2 separate regions of the Homo sapiens genome follow, and region 2 is reported to be linked to region 1. Evidence: microRNA targets listed by miRTarBase, many of them from high-throughput screens and not tested one by one. Region 1 holds a microRNA gene; the other region holds the end of a gene's coding sequence.
The links. Region 1 holds the annotated microRNA hsa-miR-3919 (GCAGAGAACAAAGGACUCAGU, at 1,944-1,964, opposite strand). A microRNA usually pairs through its seed, bases 2 to 8, with sites in the 3' UTR of a target mRNA and lowers its output. Matches are read on the target gene's strand: a 7mer-m8 pairs with bases 2 to 8, a 7mer-A1 pairs with bases 2 to 7 and ends in A, and an 8mer does both.

Region 2: miRTarBase lists FOXP4 as a target of hsa-miR-3919. Seed matches in the 3' UTR shown: 7mer-m8 at 1,571-1,577 and 7mer-m8 at 353-359.

Annotation. Positions count from the first base shown.
Region 1 is chr3:159,280,135-159,284,663 of GRCh38, reverse strand. It overlaps MIR3919 (microRNA 3919), which reads right to left and starts at 2,018; the gene lies at 1,930-2,018. The region is part of intron 4 of IQCJ-SCHIP1 (IQCJ-SCHIP1 readthrough); the gene reads right to left. All of the region lies in intron 1 of SCHIP1 (schwannomin interacting protein 1), which reads right to left.
Region 2 is chr6:41,598,438-41,602,437 of GRCh38, reverse strand. It overlaps FOXP4 (forkhead box P4), which reads right to left. Exons shown (of 17, transcript NM_001012426.2): 17 at 54-3,649. The coding sequence ends at 3,502. MIR4641 (microRNA 4641) reads right to left here and starts at 3,715; the gene lies at 3,650-3,715. RefSeq lists enhancers at 3,030-3,613, 3,614-4,000.

The DNA of each region.
Region 1 (4,529 bases):
TACAAAAATTAGCCGAGTGTGGTGGCGTACACCTGTAATCCCAGCTACTCAGAAGGCTGAGGCAGGAGAATCGTTTTAACCCGGGAAGCAGAGGTTGCCCTGAGCTGAGATTACACCACTGCACTCCATTCTGAGTAACAGAGTGAGACTCCATCTCAAAAAAACAAAACAAAACACCTAAAGTTAACAGGCAAACTAAATATTACATTAAAATATCAAAGTGTATTAATTAGAAAATACAGAATTGATTAACACAATAGCTGATTCTTATAAAATTTCAATTAACAAAATTATAAATATTAAAAGTAATAAAGGAGTATGCAGAGAGAAATTTTAAACAAAATAATATGATAGTTAATCTCAAGATATTCACTTATATATCTTGGAAAGTAAGTAGCAGAATTTACTTATGATATTGTAGAAAACCTGAATATCTAATAACCATGGAAGAAATGAAAATGTTATTTTAAAGTATTTATAAGAAAAGACATTGTGGCTGTACGGTTTTATCAAGAATTTTTTTCAAACTTTCAAGGAACATGTAATTACCATGCTATATGAAATTAGAGACCAAAGGAAAATCTAGGAAGCTTTTCATTTTACGAAGCTTGCACAGCCCTGATTCAAACTTGAAAGAAATACAAACTACAGGTGAATTTCGTTTTTAAGCAGAGATGTAAAAACTTAAACAACATACCATAAAATAGAAATAAAAAGCAACATATAAAGAACTACCCGTTAAAACCAAACAGCAATACCACAATGCAAGAACAGACCATAACTCATCGCATCAACTATGGATAATAAGACAACCTATTTTGCTTAGGTTGAATTTTCTAATCAATACAATAAGACTTTTGGAAAGGAAGAGGCAATTTAGTATTATTTGCAGTTGAGAAAATTACATGGTTAACAACCTCGAAAGAATCCACTAAAAAAATTCTGAAGTACTATTAAGAGATTTTAATAAATTGAAAAGATACAAATCAATACAACAAAAAGCCATCGCTTCCTATATTATAGTAATAACCAATTAGAGGTGGAACAAAAGGAAGGAAATAGCCAGGCGCGGTGGCTCACGCCAAGATCGCGCGCCATTGCACTCCAGCCTGAGCAACAAGAGCGAAACTCCGTCTCAAAAAAAAAAAAAGGAAATAATCCATAATCCATGTACATAGGAACAATCATAGTAAGTAAAGTAAAAAATATGCCGGGCATGATGGTTCACGCCTGTAATCCCAGCAGTTTGGGAGGCCAAGGCGGGCGGCGGATCACCTGAGGTCAGGAGTTCGAGACCAGCCTGGCCAACATGGTGAAACCTCGTCTCTACTGAGAATACAAAAATTAGCCGGGCATGGTGGCATGGGCCTGTAATCCCAGCTACTCGGGAAGCTGAGGCAGGAGAATCACTTGAACCCAGGAGGCGGAGGTTGCAGTGAGCTGAGATCATACCACTGCATTCCAGCCTGAGCGACAGAGTGAGACTCCGTCTCAAAAAAAATAAAAAATATAAAACATATGAAATTTCAAATCTTTCCTGATATCTATATCTATTCGTGTTCTTATGCATATTTAGGTCCTTATCAATATTTATTTATCTACACAGCGTTCCTAGATGGTAAGAACAAATTTGCAAAGGTATCAGTTCTTATATTAGTTTACAGATTTGATGCAATTGCTATTAAAGTCTCTAAATAATTTCTTAACTATACAATTGTAGAGTTTATCTGGAATGAGTCTGACCATCCAAGAACATGAAAATATATGAAGTGGAGAATTCCCTGCTAGATATTAAAATTCATCATATAAATGTAATATTTAAGACAGTAAAATATAGGTACTAGAATAGACATGTGAAACCATGTCTATTCATGAAGGTAGTTCAGAAACAGATTCTAATGGATTTATTTTTAACATATGGTAAAGATTCCTGAGCACCATTTACTGAGTCCTTTGTTCTCTGCTACGAACTACTACAAACTAGTAGAGAACAAAGGACTCAGTAAATGGTGCTCAGGTAAAGGGTTAACTACTTGGAATAAAATAAGACTATTATTTCTCATTATGCCATACACCAAAATTTCAATGAACTTAAGACAAATGATAAAGTTGAAACCAGTTTTCAAAAAACACAAAAATATATAGGTGAATGGGATACTAAGTAGGTTTTATTTCCAAAAAAAAATTTAAAATTCTAAAGATTGAAATATGCAATCTAGGAAAATATATCTCACATATACGAATGCAAAAGCTTAATAATATATACGTAATATTTAACACATAAAATCTCAGTGAAACAATAGACAATTCACAGAATAAGTCAACATGGCCACAAAATGTGAAAATGTTAAGCCTCAACAACTAAAAAAGAAATTCAGGTTTTAAACACAGGCCACTTTCAATCTATTAAATTAACAGAACTAGCACAACAGTTCTAGGGATGTAACAATATATATCAATATCCTTAAAAATGTTATATAAATTTTTATTATACTTACAGTAATCTCTTGTAAGGAAACAAAAATATGAAAATATATGAACACTCAATGTTGACATTGATAACTATAGTGGCATAGTTCAATAAATTATATGTCTATGTGATTTCATATTACTCATTCACACTGTACCATAAAACTTTAAGAAATTTTAATGACACAGAAATTAAAATATTAAGTTTTTAAAAGCACAGTGAAAAATGTTGAAAATATGTTTAAGAGCTATATTTATATATATTCATACTAATACCTAGTGTATACACATTTCGGAATCTCCAAGGAAATTCACTGAAATGTTAACAATAGGGGTCTTTGTTGGATTAATGGTGAGATATATTTTTTAACATTTCATATTTTCTAAAATGAATATACACATTACAACGATAAATGAATAGGCATTGCTATAAAATGAGACAGAGAATATTACAATGTAGTTTAGAAACAATGCCATTCAAAATGTGTTGACTGAAAAAAAAGTAACCGTCCATTATTGATAGATTTCATTTATACAGAAGCCTCATTTCCTGTCAGTTTTTGATAAATTAGTGATCACTGTACTTTGCTCTAAAATGTAAATAGCTCCCTTCTTCCACTGACACAGCACAGATTTGTAGGTCTTCATGAAAATACAAAATGTACATACATTAAGAAGTGTAAGCACATTCATTCAAAACTATACTTTTTAGCTCTTGACACTGAAAATTTATCATCTTTTAATATATAAAGCATATTATTTTTTAAATATATGTGCATATGTGTTTTAGGCGCATATGTGGAATCCTATGTATTTGAAAATAATTCTTGTCCAAATAAAGTAAACCACTTAGAATATTTCGGTGTAATTATGATCACATAGCTTAAACATTAATTACAGGGAATGAATAAATGTTTCCCCAGATTCTAGCAGGTCTTCCTGCCTTTCTCTTCCTTCCAAAATCCCAAAATGAAGTTCCAAGAGGATGTATTTCTTTTTCCTAGCTTCTAATTAGCCCAGTCTTTGGTTTAGTTGGCAAGGGCGACTTTTGCATAAGCAATAGCTCTCTTTCAAAAAAGACTGATGTGGGAGATTGTGAAAGACCTATAAAGGTCCTGTGATCTTCAGTAGGGTCCATCCAAGCACCCAAACAGAAGCCTCCACAGCCACGATTGCCCCACATGTCACATAGGGAATGTATTTAACACATGCAATCGTGGATTACTCCCTTCCCATCATCCCTTTTCTACTGGCACAAGTCAGAGGTGCTGTTCCAAGTAGAAAATGTGGGTTTGCACAGCAATTTAGAGTGTGCATTGCTTTTTTGTCTGTTTGTGGGACACTGGAAGATAGGCCTGGCACAGTTCATCCTTCGCAAGTGCTTAATGCCATCCCTGGGGACAGGAATATCACAAGCCCAGAAAAACACAGCTTTTAGCCACTTGGTGTTGAAAATTTCAGGCAAAATTCCAAAAGCCCTCAAAGCTAATGTTGAATTGACAAAGTGCCAAAACCTCTCTGGCATTAAATTTCCACTCTTTATTTTCCCCCTTCAGGTTAACAGCTTGTGAAAATAATAATGTGATAATGCCACCCTGTGTTCCAAATATCTCGAAGCACGATCTTGTTAAGCTTTCGTGTCCCTTTGAGACTAACGGGAATTGAGCCGACTTATTCATTTTACAGATGAGAAAACCCTCCAGGAGATGAGTCAAATGTCTGAGCGATGGCCCTGCAACTTATCACATAGGTCCCAGGTCTAGATTAAATTCTCCAAACAAGGCCAAGTGTTCTAGGAAAGGACCTGAAAAGCTCAGCTAGCATCAAAAAGGGCCAGAGAAAGATTCATAGAGATTACTAGGCAGGCTAGTATAATAAACCAGTGAAAGTGGTGGAAACACACATTCCAGGAGGGGCAACAAGGCATAGTCTAGGCATAGCAATAAAGCATAGTCTAGGCATGTGGCCAACTGGAGTCAACAAGAATCACCATGGTCATCAGAAGATCTAATGTGACATCAGGGGCATTTTACAACATCAGGGACACTGGAGTTTGGCTT
Region 2 (4,000 bases), not on the chromosome of region 1:
TAGGTCCCAGCTGGGAGGGGAAGAAGGGGAAAGGGGAAGCGGCCGCAGCAAAATCATGGGTAATTGTTTTTATTGCATTGTAGAGAATGCCATTGTCCACAGATTACATGCAGCTAGGTTTACCGTACAAGGCCCTGGCAGCCTCCACGGAGGGCTGGGAGGGGCAGATTACAAAACACATCAGTGCTACTTTTTTAAACAGTATCTGGTGGGGAGACTCTGAGACCAAGCTGAGCTCCCCAGCCCCTCTCGAGGTACCATGGGGGACAGGGAATTCACCCCAGGCCCTACACAAGCGTCCAGAGGATTAGGGCTGTGGTGGAGCAGGCCTGCAGAGTGGATGAAGGTGAGACAGAGAAAGCGGGGCGAGTGAGCGACAGACAGAAATAGATGGACGAAAAGGACAAAAGACATGCCTGAGAGTAGAGAGAGGTCAGCAAAGACTCACCCTCCAGGTCCTTCTCCCAGCATTTGGCTGGAGAGTTCCAGCAGTTTGGTGATTTGTGGGAAGGGTGATTGACTCCAGTTCAGCTTTCTCAACACCCTCCCCTCCCCTGCTCCCCAAATACACTCTTCCCTGGGCCTTGTCCCTAGGGACAGGCCTGGGACTCCTTTCTGCCCTCAAGGAGGGAGTGTCCAGAAGGTGGCGTAAGACCAGTGAGAGCCGGGTGCAGTGGCTCACGCCTGTAATCCCAGCACTTTGGGAGGCTGAGGCTGGCGGATCACCTGAGGTCGGGAGTTCGAGATCAGCCTGACCAACATAGAGAAACCCCGTCTCTACTAAAAATACAAAAAAATTTAGCCCGGCGTGGTGGTGCACGCCTGTAATCCCAGCTACTTGGGAGGCTGAGGCAGGAGAATCACTTGAACCTGGGAGGCAAAGGTTGCAGTGAGCCGAGATAGCATCACTGCACTCCAGTCTGGGCAATAAGAGCGAAACTCCATCTTAAAAAAAATAAAAAATAAAGACCAATGAGACGGCTGAGGCCCTGGGGATGTGCACAGGGGTCTGAGGCGGCGGGAGGGGCTCTGTGTTGAGGAGGGGCAGCAGGTGGGGAACCAGGACTTAACACGGGATAAGAGGTGCAGGCTGGTGTGCTGGGGCTGGGGGAGGTGTCAGGGGCCATCTTTGGCTTAGCAGCTTGGCCCTTGGCCTCTTTCCTTGCAGCCTATCCAGGGTCCCCTTTGTATAGGTTGAATGATCCCGTTTCCGCCGTGAGCCCACTATGATGACCATGGTCACCACACAGTGTGCCACGTGGGTGTGCACGCACACTAATGGTCCTACTGCTTCAGGATGCCACCACCACACCTGGGCACTACACACACACACGCCTATCCAGGCAGCCCCCTTGAAGACGTGGACAATGGGCCTGGAAGGACACCTGGGAATGGGTGTGGATGTCTCCAGAGCTGGTGGCACAGGTAAAAGAACCCTGCGGCGGTGGTCCTCTCCATCCCTGCAGCAAATCAGCTGCCTTGCTCCAACACTCTGGCAAGAACTTGGATTTCAAACTAGTGAAAGAACTAGGGCAAAGGATTGGGACTCTGGAAGAAAACAGGAAAATGACAGAGAACCCTGTTTAAGCGTGGAAGGGACAGGAGGCACAGGGGAACCGGAGGTGGGTGGGCCCTGTCCACAGTGAGGGCACATGCCCAGCGCCCCTGCAGGGCTGCTCATTCCATCCACTCACAGAAACCACCACCACAGCGACCCTCACGTTGCTGCTGCTCTGCCCAGGCTCCCCGAGCAGAGCGATCTTTCAGCTTTAATGCTCCTCCCCTCCCGCACCTCGGTGACACACACAGGGCCCGGTGAATAGAGGACGTTTAATATTTCTGTGCTGGTCAAACGGAACACAGGTGGGGAATACATGGGGAGGGGGCGGAGGGCCCCCTGCCTCTCAGGAGGGGTGGCTTGTGAGGGGTGTATGTGGGGGGTTCTTGGGAAATATCCAAGGAGTCTTCTCAGTAAAGGGGCCAGGCCAGGGGTGTTATGAGCATCCGATACGCCCAGTCCTTGGCCTTGAGTTGGGGGTCCCCCATAGGGGGTCTGTGGAGAGTCTGACTTTTTTCCAGCTCTTTTGCTAGAATCCACACTCCCAGCACGACGGGTGACTTGGTCCTAGAGAGGGGTCTGGAGAGCCCCCAGGAAGCAGCCCAGGGTCAGGGAGAAGGGCTCCCGTGCCCACTCCTGAGGGGGTGAGAGCCCGCTTTCTCCCCTCCTTTCTCCTTCCCCCAGGCTGGGCAGGAGCGGAAGGGAGGGGGGCAGGGCCCTGCCTCCACTGAGCCCCAGGGTCCTCAGGGTGGATGGAGGAGGGGTGGAGAGAGAAGGTCTTGGCCACCAACAGACACTGTAAACTTTGGTTTAAAACAATAACTTAAGTGGAGGGAGGGCTTCCAGCCTGGGGCCGGGGTGGGAGACTGGGAGGGCAGGTGCTGGGGAGGCGACAAAGGAAAAAGCCAACAAAAAGTTTTGGTTTTTGCTTCCGGCATAAGAAAGGTCTTTGGTCATCCGTTTAACTGGTGGGGCGGCGGGGGGAGAGGCGGGCAAGGAAGGGGAGCTGAGGGTGACTGCAGAGGAAGGGGAGCTGAGGGAGGGTGAGAGGACTGCAGAGAGGCCTGCAGGCTGGATGTGGGTGTGGAGCCGGGGTCCAGCCTGGCCTTCCCCTGGGCTCCCGGCCCAGGCCCCGCCTCTGGCCTCAGGGAGAGCTTGGCTCCACCTGCAGAAGCGCACCTGGCACAGACCTCTGTGGGTGAGGCGGTACCAGGCCTCTTCCCATGGGGGCGGCTGGAGGAGCCCCCAGCAAACGGGGGTGGGGGTGGAGGCCTGGCTCAGCCTGGTTCTGTCTCAGGTTGGGGGCGGGTCTGGAGCCAGGTGGGCCTGCTCACACGGACCCCCACAGGGCACACAGACAGTCCCACCCCAGCAGCAGAGGGGGCTGTTTCTTCTGGGGATGGAGGCACAGTTCCTCCACCCAGGCCAGGGCAGGGTGGGAGCTGGGGTGGAGAGTTCTTTCTTCACAGTACGGAAAAGAAGGCGGAAGGGAGCACGAGTTAGGAAAGTGGGGGCCTCTGGCCAGAAAACACGGCCAGAGCCAGGTGCCAGGGGGCCCTGGGTTTGAGGGGTGGCTAAGCCCCGCCTGCGGGTCTCCATGATGCTGAGGGGCCCTGTGGGGAGAGCTGGTGGGGGAGGAGGGCCCTGCTGCTGCTGGTGGTTGGGGGGAGGCAGTTTCAGATGTGGGGAGGGTCTGAGGAGGGGTCTGAACCCTCCGTGTCCTCTACTGGTCCAAGACCAGGGGTTGTGTCCCTGGGGGTGGGGACCGTCCCTGCCCCTACGTGTTTTTGTCAGGTCACACTGGGAGCTGCTGGCCCGGGCCTCCCCGGTCTGAGTCCTGGACTTGCCTTGAGGCTCGGGAGGGGCTGTGGAGTTGGGGGAGATGGGGCCTGGATTCTGGAAGGGAGGGGTCTCACCCCAGCCCTGCCGGTCACTACAGGCCCTTAGGACAGTTCTTCTCCCGGCAGCTCCTCCTCCAGGTCCCTGTCTTCCGGAGGCCCCGAGGCGCTGGGGTTAGGGGCGCCCAGGGGAGGCCCGGGCTGCCTGTCTTCCTCTGCCTCTGCTGGCTCCTCCTTCACCTGCACCTGGTGGCTGAGGCAAAAGTATGGCATGGGCACCAGGCGGCTGTCCTCTGATGCCCTCTGCCCCCTGCCCCCCAAACTCACCCAGAACTCTGGGGCACAGTGGGGTGCCCACAGCCCCCTCCCCAGGATCCCATCAGACCTGAGGGCTGATCTCCCCTAGGGCTCTCTTCAAAGAAAAGCTGGTCCTGGGGCAGAGACTGCTCTGGGTTGGGGAGGAGAGAAGAGGGGAGCAGAGGGGAGATGAGCGAACGGAGGAAGGAGAAGAAAGATAGAAGAGAGGCCAGGCGAGGTGGCTCACACATGTAATCCCAGCATTTTGGGAGGGCGAGGCCAGTGGATCACCTGAAATCAGGAGGTC